2 separate regions of the Homo sapiens genome follow, and region 2 is linked to region 1. The links come from fine-mapping of genetic effects on gene expression. Tissue or cell type: blood mononuclear cells. Region 1 holds a variant in brackets; the other region holds the start of a gene. All regions are shown on one strand. Distances are between the middles of the regions.

Region 1 (2,756 bases):
CTGGCTGTGCCATCCCCGCAGCAGTGGCCCTGTGGTGTGGGGAGTGACTACATCCTTTTCATCAGGGAGTCTGTGCTCAGAGGCCAAGTGTCTGCCCAAGCTGTCCCCAGAGTTCAAACTCAGATTTTGAGACTCTGGAGTCCACGTGCTCTGGGCTCCTGCAGGTCACCTCCATCCCCAGAGTGACCTCTGCTGACCAGAAACCCTGGACCCAGGCCCAGAGAGTAGGGCTAGGAACCAGATCGGGGGTGGACATGGAGGATGGGAGGAGGCCCTCACCTGCGCCGGCTTCCCGGTGGCTGGTTCCTTGAGCAGGGCCCTAGCCTTGCCCCGGGCACCAAGGTCTCCAGGACCTGGCCCTGCCCATCTCCTCAGCCACCTCTCTAGTGCGCAGCCCCTTGCACCTGTCCACCCTCTGCCTCGGGGCCTTGGTGCAAGCTGCCCCCTCTGCCTGTCGAGCCTCTCATCTCCGGCACCCACCTGATGGTCCTGGCTCGAGAAGCTTCCTTGTGTGCATCTCCTGTCTCCCGCCTCCATCGTGCCCTGCCACACCATTCCTCCCTTCCTCCCTCCCTTCCTCCACATGCTCATATCACATACGGCATTGCGCTGGCTGCATCTCCTATATGTTCTGCCCCCCGCCCCGCGCAGACAGCAGTCCCCTGGGAGCAGGACACGTAGCCACCCCCCATCTCCTCCATCTCCTCTATCCTTCCATCCCCTCCATCCCTTCGTCCCTCCATCCCCTCCGTCCCTCCATCCCTCCGTCCTCTCCGTCTCCTTCATCCTCTCTGTCCCTCCATCCGGTACAGTTCCGTCTGCCAGAGGCAGGGCTTGCTTCATGCCTTCTGTGCTCCTCCTCCACACTCAACCTCCTTTTCCCCCCAACAGGCCACCCTGCAGTTCTGTGTGGTGAAGCCACTCATGGCGGTCAGCACTGTGGTCCTCCAGGCCTTCGGCAAGTACCGGGATGGGGACTTTGAGTAAGCAGCGGGTGCTCCCCGGGGTGTGTGGGAGGAGTGTTGGCGCAGGCTGGTGCCTTGGCTCAGGGAAGGGGGCAGCCAGAGTGGCCGCACAGCCATGACCTTCCTGGGTGTCTGGTGCTCACAACCCCCCTGAAGTCTGAGCCCAGCAGTGGACACCCTTGCAGTTGGCCCCGCTGCCAGCCCC[G/T]GAGTGAGCCATTGGCAGCAGTCACGTTCATGTCCAGGCTGCAGAGTGGTACCATGAAGGGATGGGCCACAAAGGGACAGTGACCACTGCTGAGGCAGGGAGCGAGAGGGTCAGAGCCCCAAGAGGTCGGCTCAAGTCCACAGATACAAAGCCCGTGCTGTGTAAATTGTCCACACCCATTTCATTCTGGGCTTAGTGAAAGTGACCCCGTGGCTGGGCACAGTGGTTCACGCCTGTAATCCTAGCACTTTGGGAGGCCAACGCGGGTAGATCACCTGAGGTCAGGAGTTCAAGACCAGCCTGGCCAACATGGTGAAACCCCATCACTACTAAAAATACAAAAAATTAACCGGGCGTGGTGACGGGTGCCTATAATCCCAGCTACTCGGGAGGCTGAGGCAGGAGAATCGCTTGAACCCAGGAGGCAGAGGTTGCGGTGAGCCAAGATCACGCCATTGCACTCTAGCCTGGGTGACAAGAACAAAACTCCATATCTAAAAAAAAAAAAAAAAAAAGTGACCATGTGTCTAGCCCTGTGCTTTCAAGCTCTCGGCACACACTGTCTGTGAACTGTGTAACAGCCCTGCCAGGGCAGGTGGGCAAAAGGAGGTCAGGGGGATGCAGCCGACCGAGTGAAAAGGCAGCAGAGCTGAGCAGCGTCACCTATTTTGACGCCTGTTATCTGAGTGTCAGGCTATGGCCTCGGGCCCGGCCCTGGCTTCCACACTGGTGTCCAACGTTAGGAGTGTGGGCACCAGGGCTTAGACAAGTCCACGAGCCACGCAGAGGCAGTAGAGCTGGTCTGGCCTGCAGGCGCACCCCATGTACCCCCACCCCTGTCTGTCGCTTTGATCACCCATTCTGACCCCTTCAGTGGCTCGTTGAGCTCTGCTGGAGGTGTGGGGCTGAGAGCCATGGGGACTGTGTGTGGTGCAGTCGAGGAGAGCCCCTTCCCTCCAAGGGTCTGTCCCAGCCAGAAAATGCTCCCCGTCCCGCAGCGTCACCAGTGGCTACCTCTACGTGACCATCATCTACAACATCTCCGTCAGCCTGGCCCTCTACGCCCTCTTCCTCTTCTACTTCGCCACCCGGGAGCTGCTCAGCCCCTACAGCCCCGTCCTCAAGTTCTTCATGGTCAAGTCCGTCATCTTTCTTTCCTTCTGGCAAGGTGAGCCCCCTCCCAGCACCTGGAGGCTGCCCATGCCACCCTGTCCTCTGCGCTTCCTGCTGCCCCTTCTGCTTATGGTCCCTGGTGCCTGTAGGGCCTGTTCAGAGGGGCCTCAGCCCACTGGGCACTTGCTGGGGGTGAAATCTGAGCCCTCGAGGGCCTTTCCCAGGGGCTAGGGAGAGCTTTGGTGGGGCCGCTACATGGATGAGAGGGCCCAGGAGACCCTGCGTAATTGCTGGCATCTCAGTTTCGGTGGCAAAGAGCTGGGAGAGTGGGGTTTCCGGAGGCTGTGGCCTTGTGTCGCTACCCCTGCCCTGCAGGAGCAGCTGTGGCCCTGCTCACATCCTCACTGGGGCATGTGGGCAGCTGAATGGGGCATTGTGGAAGAAGGGGGAGCAGGAAAGGAATCATTCTGGGT
Region 2 (2,500 bases), 47 kb before region 1:
GCCGAGATCGCGCCACTGCACTCCAGCCTGGGCAACTTTGAGACAAAGAGCGAGACTTTGTCTCAAAAAGAAAAAAGAGAAAAAAAAAAAAGGATCTCCCTCACCCCTGAATTGATAGAATGGATCAGAGGGCAAGGCTGGAACAAGGGAGAGGGGTTAGCAGAACTCTGCAATAATCCTGTGCAAATACTGGACCAGGGTGGTAGCACTGGAGGAGGAGTGGCAGACATCTGAGTCTAGATCTATTTTGCAGGTAGAGCCAACAGGATCTCCTGCCTGCCTTATTGGGTAGCGGGCAGAAGGGGGGCATTCATTCACAGCTGACTCCGAGTTCTGGCCTGGGGACTGGAAGGATGGAATTGTCAACAGCTGATGGAGGCAAAGCTGAGAGGGAGCAGGTTTTTGTGTGTGGAAGTGGGGTTGGCTCAGCTCAGACACGCTGACTTTGAGATGCCTGCTGGAGCTCCAAGGAAGAGGTGTTGGGTAGACAGTTCAGGCGAGGAGTCTGGAGACATAAATACATTTGGGGATCTTGAGCACATCAATGCCAGAACTTAATTGCATTTTATCTTGTTCAGTTAACCTAGGTGATGTCTGGACCGGCAAACAGAAATGGACTAGGCGGCTTGAACCCTATCTGAAGACTTTTGCTAGTTCGGCAGCCTAGAGCCAGACGGGGCAAGAAAGAATCGCTGCTAAGCGGAGTGGGAAAAAAAGGCCTCTTTCAGTGCTTTGCCATTTCATCTGGCCTAATTGCACACAACACTCGGTCCACGTTCATTCCACAATTCCACACGCATCCTTCACTCAACAAATAGCCATTGTATTTCGTTTCATCTTCAAAACAGGCTCAAATGGAGGAAATTAGGGTTAAAAGAAGTGAAGCACCAGCGAGGGTCAGGGGCAGAGATCGCAGCCCAGAAAGCTCTCGCGGTTGGGGGCCGGTCGTAGCTGGTTTTGTGAGTGGCAAGAGAACCCGGGTCGCGCCCCAACCCGCGGGGCGGCGGGCTGGGGTTCGGGGCGGCGGGCTGGGGTTCGGGGCGCGGCCCCTTTAAGGCCCAGGCAGTGATCTCAGCCGCGTCCGCCGCCCCGCCCTCCCCGGCGGCGAGCCCAGAGCGCATGCGCGCCGCGGCTGCACTCCACTGGGCCCGGGACGCGCCGGCGGCGGCGGAGACTCCGGGGCTGCGGCGCCGCCCGCCCCGCCCGCAGAGTCCGGCTGCCGCGCATCGTCCGCAGACGCCGCCACCGCCATGGGCTCCTGAGGTATCCCGCCTGGCCGGCCTCGCCCGGGAGCCCCAAGGGGGAGCTGCGACTCCCGAGCGCGGGGGGCTGCTTGTTTCGGAGAGGCCCGCGCGAGGGACGCCCGGCTTCGGCCGCCGGCTCCCGGGCGGGGAGGGCACTACGGAGGCCGGTGCGGCCGCGGAGGGAGGGGGCATCCGTCTCCCCACCCGTGCCTCCTCTCCGCCCCGCGAGGTCGCCCGTGGGTGTGCCCGCTCCCTTTCCACGCCAACGTGGCGGGGGCAGCTCCTGGAGTGTAATCGGACCTGTCCGGGGGGCGGCCCCGGGAGAGGGAGGCGGATGGACCAAGGCGCTTTGCAAGAGGGATTGTGTGCTCCCGGGTGGGTGTGCTGGCGACTGGCACGGCCGAGTGAGTGGGGGAGGCGTCCGTGCCCTGTGCGGGTGGCAGTGACCTGGGAGGGTGGTCGGCGGGGGGCTTTCGGGGCTGCGTCGTGAGTGGAGGGTGTACACGCCCGCCACACAGGTCCGCAGGTTTGGAAGGGGATCGACTGGGACCTGGGGCTCGAAAGATGTTTGCCCCCAAAGGGACCGTGGAGACTGGTTTTGGGTGTCTGTATCCTTCCCGTGAATTGTACATTTCCTCCTGGGCACACCCTTGGTACCTCGCTTGGATCCACTTACCTCCAGTGCTGGGTGGCTCCAGGCCAAGGCAAGGCAGTTATGCTGGGGGTTGGGCATGGATTCCCAATACATATCCCCTCTGGAGGTGTTGTATAAGGCCAGACGTTTTACTCCTCCCTCCTTTCCAGGGCATTTTGGGGCAAAGCAGGTATTTGCATGCCTGATACCTGTGGTGAGGTGAAGGCCATGTATTATTTATCTGACTGCTGGTGCTTTTGTAAGGAAAGAAGCAGCAATCTGTGCCCTGGAGGCCCTGCGCTGCAGAGTCAGCCAGGCAAACAAGCTCACCTGCACCTGCAGAGGCAGCGCAGGTCTCAGAGGTGTGACTTCGTTGACAGGTTATGCCTACAGTGTCCCTTTCCATCTACCTATTTAGCTTCCTTGGTAGAACCCCTAGGCTCTGCACCTCTGAACCTTGCCTAGGGTGCTGTGCGTATCAGAGTTGGGACCTGGGACGCTGGGGTGGGAGAGCCCCAGCAGCCAGGTATGTGTGCCCACCTGGACAGAAACATTTGATGCCCAAGCCATCAAGGAGCTCTCAAGCATGGGGGAATCAGATTTGGAAACAGGTGATCACGAT

Evidence for each region. PIP is the estimated chance that this variant, and not a neighbour inherited with it, causes the effect.
Region 2: TMEM184B starts here. The variant in region 1 is fine-mapped to the expression of TMEM184B in blood mononuclear cells (TOPMed, PIP above 0.99). The same link has a PIP of 0.9 or more in transverse colon and whole blood.

The regions. Positions count from the first base shown.
Region 1 is chr22:38,225,006-38,227,761 of GRCh38, reverse strand. TMEM184B (transmembrane protein 184B) reads left to right here. Exons shown (of 9, transcript NM_012264.5): 6 at 892-983; 7 at 2,169-2,338. Among named protein-coding and RNA genes, the nearest start is that of SNORA92, 1.7 kb to the right of the region's middle. RefSeq lists an enhancer at 2,603-2,756. The variant G/T (reference allele first, on the strand shown) is at 1,171.
Region 2 is chr22:38,271,647-38,274,146 of GRCh38, reverse strand. TMEM184B (transmembrane protein 184B) reads left to right here and starts at 1,137. Exons shown (of 9, transcript NM_012264.5): 1 at 1,137-1,263. RefSeq lists a silencer at 985-1,614 and an enhancer at 1,677-2,386.